Homo sapiens: one gene and its partners. The gene in region 1 interacts genetically with each later gene. Each region holds a gene or a part of one and is shown on either strand. Other genes may lie near its edges.

Region 1 (3,649 bases):
AATAAATATATAATTACATGTTTATATCAGATGATTGTACATGCTATGAAGAAAATAAAGCAGGTTGGGGCATAGGGCATGTCTAGCAAGGGAGGGTGGGGCTGCAGTTTTAAAAGAGTGATCAAAGAAGGTGTAAGGGAGAAAAAAATGGCTTTCCTCTACCCTTCTAGGTCCTTTGGCTGGGCTGAGAATTAAATTGACATAGACAGATTAACTGGAGGAAAAATAATTAATTACATAGTTGTACACAGGAATCCTACAAAATATGAGGCTCAAAGAAGGGTCAGATAATTGAAGCTTATATAGCATCCTGAGCTACAGAAAAGAATATGGGGCTTGGGACTTCTGTTAGGGGCTTGAGTGGCAGCAACCCAAGTTATGGCAGGGTGAGGGAAAGAATTGGTGGTGGCGTGTGTCTGTGGTCCCAGATACTGTTGAGGGGGTGTACTGAGGTGGGAGGATCACTTGAGCCTGGGAGGTGGAGGTTGCAGTGAGCCGAGATCAAGCCACTGCGCTCCAACCTGGGTGACAGAGCAAGACCCTGTCTCAAAAAATAAAAATAAAAAGTCTCTCTGGTAATAAAATTTGTCTGGAGCAGCCCTCTTCCTAATACAGATACCTTTACTAGTGTAGATTTCCTTTTTAGATGTGAATTTCTTTTACAAAAGGACAGCTTTTCAGAGCTACTCTTATGTCTGCAGTTTCTCAGAATAACCAGTTCAAAATATGCCAAAGAAGTATATTTTTGGGGTGGCATATTGTTTTCCTACAGTCATATTTTGGGATGGTATGTCCTGAGTCCCAACAAAAGTATTACCTAAATTTATTTGAGCCAAGCGCTAAATGAGGTAAGGAGGTGGATGATGTAGGTACCCTACAGCAAAGGGTGTTTAAAGCAGAGGGAATGGACTCAGGAGGGAGCATGCTTGACATTTTCAAGGATGAGCAAGAAGGTCAATGTGGCTGGAGAAGAAACAGCAAAGGGGAAAAGGGTAGAAGGTGGGGAGGGAATGGTTGAGGAGGAGGATGGAGAAGTAGGTGGGGGCCAGATCGCATACAGCATTACAGACCATGATGAGGATTTGGCTTTGGTGGAATGGTCTGTATTCCTTTTTTTTTTTTTTTTGAGACAGAGTCTTTCTCTGTCTCCCAGACTGGAGTGCAGTGGCACGATCTCTGCTCACTGCAAGCTGCACCTCCTGGGTTCACGCCATTCTCCTGCCTCAGCCTCCCAAGTAGCTGGGACTGCAGGTGCCCGCCACCACACCCGGCTAATTTTTGGTATTTTTAGTAGACGGGGTTTCACCATGTTAGTCAGGATGGTCTCGATCTCCTGACCTCGTGATCCGCCCGCCTCAGCCTCCTAAAGTGCTGGAATTACAGGCGTGAGCCACCGTGCCAGGCCTGGTCTGTATTCTTAAGGGTGGCAACAGGGAGCCCAGTGAAGAGGCTGGTGCAATTGCCAGGTGAAAAAGAATAGTGGCTTGGACCTAGAGGTGGAGGTGTAGTGAGACGGGGACTGGAGAATAAGACCAGGCTTGCACATGGTATATTGATGGGTCCAGCCATCCTGGAAACCATATTTTTCAACTACTTGGAGGTCCTAGAATCAAAGTTAAGTAAGATAGATGTTCTTTGGGAATAGTTCTCTCCAAATGTGATATTCTGATGAATGGTCCTCTTCCACTCCAACAGTATTTCTGTCTGAGTAAATGAAATTTGTCTGAGTTCAGTTCCCAACTCATCCGTGTCTACCTATGCAAGCTCCTTTTACCTCTCTGAATCTTGGGACAAATAATAATACCTGCCTCACAGGGGGCGATGGTAAAGACACAGTGAGGTATACCTGAGATGCATAAAGACTGGAGCCATGTTGGTATCATTATTCTTATTATCTTTCCACAGAACGCATGTCAGAGACCCATTCACGGAATCTTGAGCATCCACTCTCCTTTTTCTAAATACCATAGTGACCCATCAGCACATCTCAGAGCAGGCCCTTGCAGCATTTCTGTTGTAGTAGGAGCTCCACAGTGTTTGTGTGCAATGGTGGTGTAAGCACTGGTCTTGGAGTTGGAATCCCAGTTCTACTCTCAGTCTCACCTTGGCCAAGTCACTTCACCCCCAGTCCCCAGTTTCCCTTTATGCAAGATGGAGGGTTTGAAGTAGGCAATAAAGGAATGCTGGTTCTCTCTATCCTTAGGCCTTGTGGCGGATTCCACCATTACAGCATATTTCACATTAGTTATATTTTAAAATGGCTCTCTCCTGTTGACAGATATGTCAGCACCTTAACTAAACCCAGTGTCAAGGCAGGCTAGTTTATCACTGAGCCCACAATAGTGCTACCCTATATTTATGTAACACCTTACAGCTTCCAAAGCACTTTCAGATCCACCTTGCCTTTTTGATCCTTATAACCACCCAGAGAGGTGAGCAGGAAGGATGACATCTCCGTTTCAAAGGAGAGAAATCAGGTGAGAAAGATGAATTGACTTGCCCAAGGTTACATCAGGAGGAAGAGGCAGTTTTTGGACTTTCAAATTGGAACTTGACTACTAGCTTGCTGTGTGACCTTGGGCAAGTCTTTTAACTTGTAAATGGCTATAGTAATGCCACCTTTTTCTGAAGATTGGGTGAATTAATTCATTCTTTTAAGGCTTTCATATCATCCTAGGGCTCTTCACTCACATCATCTGGCTTCTCTTTTTTTACATATTGATTTTTGAAATTGTGGTTTTGTATAAAGAAACTGCCTTTGGGACCGTCTGCTATTTGGTTTCATCCCTGATGAGACTCTCGGGCCAAGCTTGAGCCTTACAGTGAACTCTGAGCCACACAGCTTTTTGGGCAGCCTCCAGTGCTCCCCTCGGAACTGGAGGTTTTTCTCCAGCTCTTCAGGAAATGCCATTGCGATGACTTCCATGGACTGCTTCCTGTCCCAGCCCTGCCGGCAAGAGTGTGGAAACTGGAAAGCAATGTCCCTAGAGGTCCGCCCCCCAAAAACTACTTTTTTTGGACGTGTCCCTGCCTTTCCTCTTGTCCATTACTTTCTTTGCTCCCTACCCTTTCCTCCTTCACCTGGCTTCTGCCTCCAGCTGTGATCATCCCTTCAAGATTTAGAAAATGCCTTTCTACTTGGTTCTGCCAGGCCATTACCCCCTACCCTAGGCTAGGCTGTGAGGGAGGTCAGTTAGAATTCCTGGGTTCTCTCCTTGGCTCCATCACGCATTAGCAGTTTCAGTCCTGGACTTCCCCTGGAGATGCATTAAACCTGTTGCTTGCGGTGCCCTGTGTCATCCATTAACCCTGAGTTCCCCTAGGAGATTCCACCCCACCCCTGCATAGGATGGGATTCTTAAGAGATAACTTGAGGTTTGGCACATATAAATCCTGCCTCTTGGAAATTGATGATAAAGGGTGGAGTGAAACAGAGCCTGCCTTCCCCTCCCCCAGTCACCTTTGAGGAGGAAGCTAGAAGGTTGAAAACCTTGTTGGACAATCATCTGAGGAATGGGAGCTGGCCTGGGAGGGGATTGGAACGCACTCAACTATGCCTCAGATCCTTTGTTCCTCTCTTGAAAGGGAAACATTCCCCTCCCTCCTCCCTGGCCACACACACATACACACGTGCCTTTGTTCCCCCGAG
Region 2 (3,649 bases), on another chromosome or scaffold:
AAACCCCGTCTCTACTAAAAATACAAAAAATGAGCCGGCGTGGTGGCGGGCGCCTGTATTCCCAGCTACTCGGGAGGCTGAGGCGGGAGAATGGTGTGAACCCAGGAGGTGGAGCTTGCAGTGAGCCGAGATCGTGCCACTGCACTCCAGCCTGGGTGACAGAGCGAGACTCCGTCTCAAAAAAAAAAAAAGAAGAAGAAGAAGAAAAAAGATGCCAGCTAATCTTCAATCTTCCCCTCCTGCCCTGCCCATCAGGTCTCCTACACCGCCACCATGCCATTCGGTAACACCCACAACAAGTTCAAGCTGAATTACAAGCCTGAGGAGGAGTACCCCGACCTCAGCAAACATAACAACCACATGGCCAAGGTACTGACCCTTGAACTCTACAAGAAGCTGCGGGACAAGGAGACTCCATCTGGCTTCACTGTAGACGATGTCATCCAGACAGGAGTGGACAACCCAGGTGAGCCTCCCCAGTGGAGCACTGAAGGGGCTACATGGGGGCTCTGGAGGCTGCCGGCCATGCCCCAATCCCACCACCCTTGAAGGGGGGGGGGCCTCAGTTTTCTCATCTGTAAAATGGGGCTGTTGTGGGAATCAATGCATTAATATACATAAAGGCTTGGGACAGTGCGAGGTACTCAGCAAACCACGCAATAAACATGCACGAGAATAATGTGAGATCCCCAAGGAGGTCGGTTCACCTCCTGAACCTCAGTCTCCTCATCTGAAAAATGGGCGCCCACGTTGTGAAAACACAAGTCAATGGCTGTGCAGTGCTTAGAGTGGCACCTGGCACCAAGTGAGTGCTCAAGCTCTGACAGGGGGGCCAGGTGCAGTGGCTCATGCCTGTAATCCCAGCACTTTGGGAGGCCCAGGTGGGAGGATCACTTGAGGCCAGGAGTTTGAGACCAGCCTGAGCAACATAGCAAGACCCTGTCTCTACAAAAAATACAAAAAAATTAGCCAAGTGTGGTGATGAGGGCTTGTGGTCCAAGCTACTCAGGAGGCTGCGGTGGGAGGATCGCTTGAGCCTGGGAGGTGCAGGTTGCAGTAAGCCGAGATCGCGCCACTGTACTCCAGCCACAGAGTGAGACCCTGTCTCAAAAAAAAAAAAAAAGAATCTGACAGGGGATGTTATTAATGTTATGGTTGTTTCTCAAAGGACATTGCAAGGCGAAGAGAGCTGGGAGTGGAGGGGAGGCTCTAGTGCCCCTCACATCCAGCTCACTGTGTGATGCCGGGGAGAAGCCCCTCTCTCCTGGCCCCTGTTTTTCCACTGGGAAACAAGAGGGTCTTTCAAGTCTCTTACCCTCCTGACCCTCTGTGGTACGGTGGTAGCCTGAGATCCTAACATTTCAGGCTAAGATGTCATGACTTTGGGTGCTAATGTTTCCGAGGTGCTGATGCTTTTAGCACCATGTACCCTCTGAAGCTCCCCTTTCTCCTTTGACCCCGCCCCCAGCACTCTTTCTTCTCTCCCACCTTGACCCCTCCCAGCCACCTTGACCTCTCCCAGCCTTCCCTCCCAGTTCCCACCAGTCCTCAGTGTTCTCTCTTTTTTTTTTTTTCCTTTGGAGACAGAGTCTTGCTCTGTCACCCAGGCTGGAGTGCAGTGGTGTGATCTTGGCTCACTGCAACCTCCACTCCCTTGGTTCAAGCAATTCTCATGCCTCAGCCTCCTGAGTAGCTGGGATTACAGGTGTGTGCCCCACACCCAGCTAATTTTTGTATTTTTAGCAGAGATGGGGTTTCACCCTGTTGGCCAGGCTGGTCTCACACTCCTGACCTCAAGAGATTCACCCGCCTCACCCTCCCAAAGTGCTGGGATTGCAGGCATGAGCCACTGTGCCCAACCCTTATGATTCTCAATTCCCACCCAGAGGTATTGAATGTACCCGCCCCCATCCCGACACACATGTCCACACAGGCTCCACTGAGCCCACAAGCCCACGCCCTGTTTGCTGGGGACAAGCAGCTCTGACCTCACCCCCACCCCTCCAGGTCACCCCTTCATCATGACCGTGGGCTGCGTGGCTGGTGATGAGGAGTCCTACGAAGTTTTCAAGGAACTCTTTGACCCCATCATCTCGGATCGCCACGGGGGCTACAAACCCACTGACAAGCACAAGACTGACCTCAACCATGAAAACCTCAAGGTCGGTGTCTGCGCAGGAGGGGAGGGCCGAGGGGTGAGGAGGAGAGAGATCACAGGAGAAATGGGGGGAGACAGAGAAATACAGAGACAGAGAGAGACACAGAGGTGTGGAGAAGCAGAGAGATGGAAAGAGAGAGGGACATTGGGAGGCTGAGGCGAGCGTATCACTTGAGGTCAGGAGTTCAAGACCAGCCTGGCCAACATGGCAAAACTCTGTCTTTAAAAAAAAAAAAAAGGGCTGGGCACGGCGGTGGCTCACGCCTGTAATCCCAGCACTTTGGGAGGCCAAGGCGGGCAGATCACCTTAGATTGAGAGTTTGAGACCAGCCTGACCAACATGGTGAAACCCCGTCTCTACTAAAAATACAGAATTAGCTGGGTGTGGTGGCACATGCCTGTAATCCCAGCTACGTGGGAGGCTGAGGCAGGAGAATCGCTTGAACCTGGAAGGCAGAGGTTGTGGTGAGCAGAGATCGTGCCATTGCACTCCAGCCTGGGCAACAAGGGCGAAACTCGTCTCAAAAAATAAATAAATAAATAAATAAAATAAATTAGCTGGGCATGGTGGCGCGTGCCTGTAATCCCAGCTACTCAGGAGGTGGAGGCAGGAAAATCTCTTGAACCCAGGAGATGGAGGCTGCAGTGAGCTGAGATCATGCCACTGCACTCCAGCCTGGGTGACAGAGCAAGATTCTATCTCAGAAAATAAAAAAAGGAAAGAGAGAGGGACAGAGAGACACAGAGACAGCCAAGGAGACACAGACAACCAAGGAGACAGACAGACAAAGGAGAGGGAGAGGGAGAAGAAAGGCACAAAAGCATGTAGAAAAGGAAGAGGCATAGCCGGGCACAGTGGCTCACGCTTGTAATCCCAACACTTTGGGAGGCTGAGGTGGGCGGATCATAAGGTCAGGAGTTCGAGACCAGCCTGACCAACACGGTGAAACCCAGTCTCTATTAAAAATACAAAAATTAGCTAGGCATGCTGGTGTTCACCTATAATCCTAGCTATTCAGCCTGGGTGACAGAGCGAGACTCTGCCTAAAAAAAAAAGGGTGGGGGGAGAGGCAGAGACACAGAGGGAGACAGAAGGGAGCATCAGAGAAGGCAGGAGAGACAGGGAGAGAGAGACACACGCAGTTGCAGTCAGACACAGACAAGGAGAGTGGGAGAAAGGGAGACAGGAAGAGAAACAGAAATGGGCAGAAAGGCTGGGTGCAGTGGCTATACCTGTAATCCCAGCACTTATGGAGGCTGAGGTGTGAGGATCACGTGAAGCCAGGAGAGTTCACGACCAGCTTGGGCAACATAGCAAGAACCCGTCTCTGCCCAAAAAAAAGAAAAAAAAAAGCCTAAAAATTTAGCTAGGCATGGTGGCTCATGCCTGTAATCCCATCACGTTGGGAGGCTGAGGCAGGAGGACTGTTTGAGCCCAGGAGTTTGAGACCAGCCTGGGCAACATAGTGACACCCTGTCTCTATTTTTTTT
Region 3 (3,649 bases), on another chromosome or scaffold:
CTCTGGTGTCAGCCTCCCAAGTAGCTGGGATTTACAGGTGCCCGCCACCACACCCAGCTAATTTTTTTGTATTTTTAGTAGAGATGGGGTTTCACCACGTTAGCCATGTTGGTCTCGATCTCCTGACCTCGTGATCCACCCGCCTCAGCCTCCCAAAGTGCTGGGATTACAGGCGTGAGCCACCGCACCTGGTCACAAACCCATGCTTTTTTTTTTTTCTTTTTGAGGCGGAGTCTCGCTTTGTTGCCCAGCCTGGAGTGCAGTGGCGCAATCTCAGCTCACTGCAAGCTCTGCCTCCTGTGTTCATGCCATTCTCCTGCCTCAGCCTCCCGAGTAGCTGGGACTACAGGCGCCCATCACAACGCCCAACTAATTTTTTTGTATTTTTAGTAGAGACGGGGTTTCACCATGTTGGCCAGGATGGTCTCGATCTCCTGACCTCATGATCTGCCCGCCCCGGCCTCCCAAAGTGCTGGGATTACAGGCATGAGCCACCGCGCCGGGCCAAACCCATGTTTTTAACTGTTCATACTCTGAGTGCCAGGTTGGAAACCAGCTGTAGCACAACCTCTGGAGATGCTGGACTGGGCCCAGATCTGTCTAAACTGTTCCCCTTTTACCACACTATCTGGCTGCCCTCCCTCCCAGCTCCTCACCGGCCAGTGGTGGGGAGATGAGGAAAGCAAGGCCGTCCAGGACAGTGAAGAGTCCCAGGGCTCTGGGGAACTGATCCATGGGGACGATGTCCATGAGAACCTGGAAGATGAGGGCGCCGATGCCACTCATGGACACGCTGTACGCCAGGCAGTAGCCCACGAGCACCCAGAAGTCACCTGATGCCGCACACACCAGGTTAGTGAGCCCATTGAGCAGGAGTGCCAGGCTGAACAGGTACTTGCGGTGGCTAGCAAAGGCCGGCCGTCCTGCCATCAGCCCGGCTAGGGGCCTCAGGAAGATGTTGCTGAAGCCGATGATGGAGATGAGGAGGGCTGCCTGCTGCTCGTCCACGCTGTGCCACATGGCATATGGCACCAGGAAGACTTGTGGCAGTGGGAAGCCCAGGACGGACCACATCACACCCAGTATGTACACGCAGTAGCCTGTGTTGTGCCGCAGGATGTCGAAGGCCAGGTGGCGCTGGATGGTCCGGCCGCATGCAGCCAGGCAGCCAAGTGCAGGTGTCTCGGGAGGTGGCGGGGGACATTCTTTGGTCTCAGGGGCCACACTGGTGGCCACAGGCCTTATGATGGCCCCGCAGATGCAGCAGTGGAGAAAGATCCCGCCGAAGACAAGGAAGGTACCCCTCCAGCCCAGGTTCTCCAGAAGGTAGCGGGAGAGCAGCGGCCAGAGGGTGATGCCCAGGGAGACGCCCATCGAGGCCAGCGCGTTGGCCAGCACCCGCCGGCGGACAAAGTAGAAGCCCAGCACCGTGATGCTTGACTGGAAGCTGAAGCACATGCCCAGGCCTGCGGGGCAAGAGGGGAAACCAGCCTGGAGGCGCACTGGGGCCTTCCACCTGCACCCAGGGGTGGGGTCAGTGGTCATTTCACACACCTGCCCTCCTCTGGTTCTAGTCCATACCCAGCTCCAAGTCCCTGGGGACTGACCATGGAATCAGCTGGCCTCGCCACCTCCCTGTAGGCACCCCACCCCAGATCTGCCCTCCCAAGGCTGCCAGGGCATCCCTGTTCCCCTAGGTGTAGCACGAGAGTTATCTTTTAAAAACCCAAATTGGGCCGAGCGCGGTGGCTCACGCCTGTAATCCCAGCACTTTGGGAGGCCAAGGTTGGCGGATCACTTGAGGTCAGGAGTTCGAGACCAACATGGTGAAACCCCATCTCTACTAAAAATACAAAAAAATTAGCCAGGCTTAGTGGCAGGCGCCTGTAGTCTGTAATAGCTACCTAGGAGGCTGAGTCAGGAGAATCACTTGAACCCGGGAAGTGGAGGTTGCAGTGAGCTGAGGTTGTGGAGGTTGCAGTGAGCTGAGATTGTGCCACTGCACTCCAGCCTGGGCAACAGAGTGAGACTCTGTCTCAAAAACAAACAAACCCCAAATTGGATTAAGTCTCTCTTGGCTTAACACCTTCCAAAGACTTCCCATCACACTTGACAAAAAATCCACAGTCTCCACAATGCCCTGGAAGGCTCTCTGTGGTCCGGCTCCAGCCCGCCTCTCAGATGCCATCTCAGGCTGCTCCCTGTCACTCATTAGGATCAAGACACAGGAACTTCTTTCTCTGCCTCTGGACATGAAGCTGCCCCTACCTCGGGTTATTTGTAGCTGCTGTTCCTTCTTGGAATCTGCTTCCTCCAGACTTTCCACTCTCCTCTCAGTTCAGACGCCACCTCTCCAGAGGGGCCTTCCCCGCTCCCCACCCACTCAGTGTCTGCACCTGCACACCTGAGCATGCTGGAGAAAAAGTTCTCAATCATGTGTGACCGTGGCCTCAGGCGGGCCCTCAGGCTGCCTGTGACGCCACTACAGCTCCCTCAATCATGCCTTGCCTGCCCTGCTAGGTGACTACCGGTGTCTTCCTCTGTGCCCCCCAACACCTCCTCCCTATCCTTATGCTCAGCTGCCCACATGCCTGCTAGCCAGTGACAATGGCTTGCCCATTCCCCCAGTGGCTGTCCCTCCCTTCTGCCCTGCATCCTCTCCACTCAGAGGCACCCCTCTAGCAAGTCCCCTCTCTCCTGCATCATCCTTTTTCTCTTCTTTCCTAGATCCTTCTCCTTCGTTATTTCTCCCATTAAAAACAAACAAACAAACAAACAAAAAAAGCCTGTCTTGACCTCATAACCACTTCTGGGTATAGTCTGTTCCTCCAGTCCCCTTAAAACAAAATGCCGTGAAAGGGCTGGGCATGATGGGCTCACACCTGTAATCCCAGCACTTTGTTTTTTGTGTTTTTGAGATGGGGTCTTGCTCTGTTGCCCAGGCTGGAGTACAGTGGTGCGATCTTGGCTCACTGCAACCTCCACTTCCCGGGCGATTCTCCTGCCTCAGCCTCGAGTAGCTGGGACTACAGGGGCCCGCCACCAAGCCTGGCTAATTTTTGTATTTTTTTTAGTATAGACAGGGTTTCACCATGTTGGCCGGGCTAGTCTCGAACCCCTGACCTCAGGTGATCTGCCCGCCTCAGCCTCCCAAAGTGCTGGGATAACAGGTGTGAGCCACCGCACCCAGCCAGCAGTTCCAGAAGATTAAGAGGCCTGCCTGCCCTGTCCACTTGTGCCTGGCACTTTCTAGCAGGTGCCTATAAATTCTGGAGATGAAGTGATAGTCACCTGTGATGAATCCTGCTGTGAAGTAGAGCTGGCTGAGGTTGTGAGAGAAGGAGCTGGCCACCATGCCCAGGCTGGCCAGCACGCCCCCCAGCATCACGGTCACTCGGCAGCCGAAGCGTCCCACCAGGATGCTGCACAGGGGCCCTGTGGGAGAAGACAGCCAGCAGGTAGCAGCTGAATGAGGAGGTGGCGGGAGAGGAGGAGAGTGGCTGGAGAGGGCAGTTCCAGCTGGAACTAGCCAGGTGGTTTCAAGGGCACGAGCAGGCCTGGATTCTGATACCCACCTGCCATGGACTGGCCATGTGGCCTGAGCAAAGCCTGATCCCTCTCCGTGCCTCAATTTTTTCCCCTACAAAGT

Evidence for each region.
Region 2: changes in BCL2L1 (region 1) and CKM together harm fitness less than expected from each alone (positive genetic interaction), as found in Homo sapiens cells (one large-scale study listed by BioGRID).
Region 3: changes in BCL2L1 (region 1) and SLC16A5 together harm fitness more than expected from each alone (negative genetic interaction), as found in Homo sapiens cells (one large-scale study listed by BioGRID).

The regions. Positions count from the first base shown.
Region 1 is NC_000020.11:31,712,749-31,716,397, reverse strand, and holds part of BCL2L1 (bcl-2-like protein 1), read left to right. Parts: intron 1-3,649. UniProt on the Homo sapiens protein: Potent inhibitor of cell death. Inhibits activation of caspases. Appears to regulate cell death by blocking the voltage-dependent anion channel (VDAC) by binding to it and preventing the release of the caspase activator, CYC1, from the mitochondrial membrane.
Region 2 is NC_000019.10:45,316,338-45,319,986, reverse strand, and holds part of CKM (creatine kinase M-type), read left to right. Parts: intron 1-255; 5' UTR 256-273; coding exon 274-466; intron 467-2,007; coding exon 2,008-2,162; intron 2,163-3,649. UniProt on the Homo sapiens protein: Reversibly catalyzes the transfer of phosphate between ATP and various phosphogens (e.g. creatine phosphate).
Region 3 is NC_000017.11:75,097,824-75,101,472, reverse strand, and holds part of SLC16A5 (monocarboxylate transporter 6), read right to left. Parts: intron 3,436-3,649; coding exon 3,292-3,435; intron 1,517-3,291; coding exon of another isoform or gene 1,467-1,516; coding exon 657-1,466; intron 1-656. UniProt on the Homo sapiens protein: Proton-linked monocarboxylate transporter.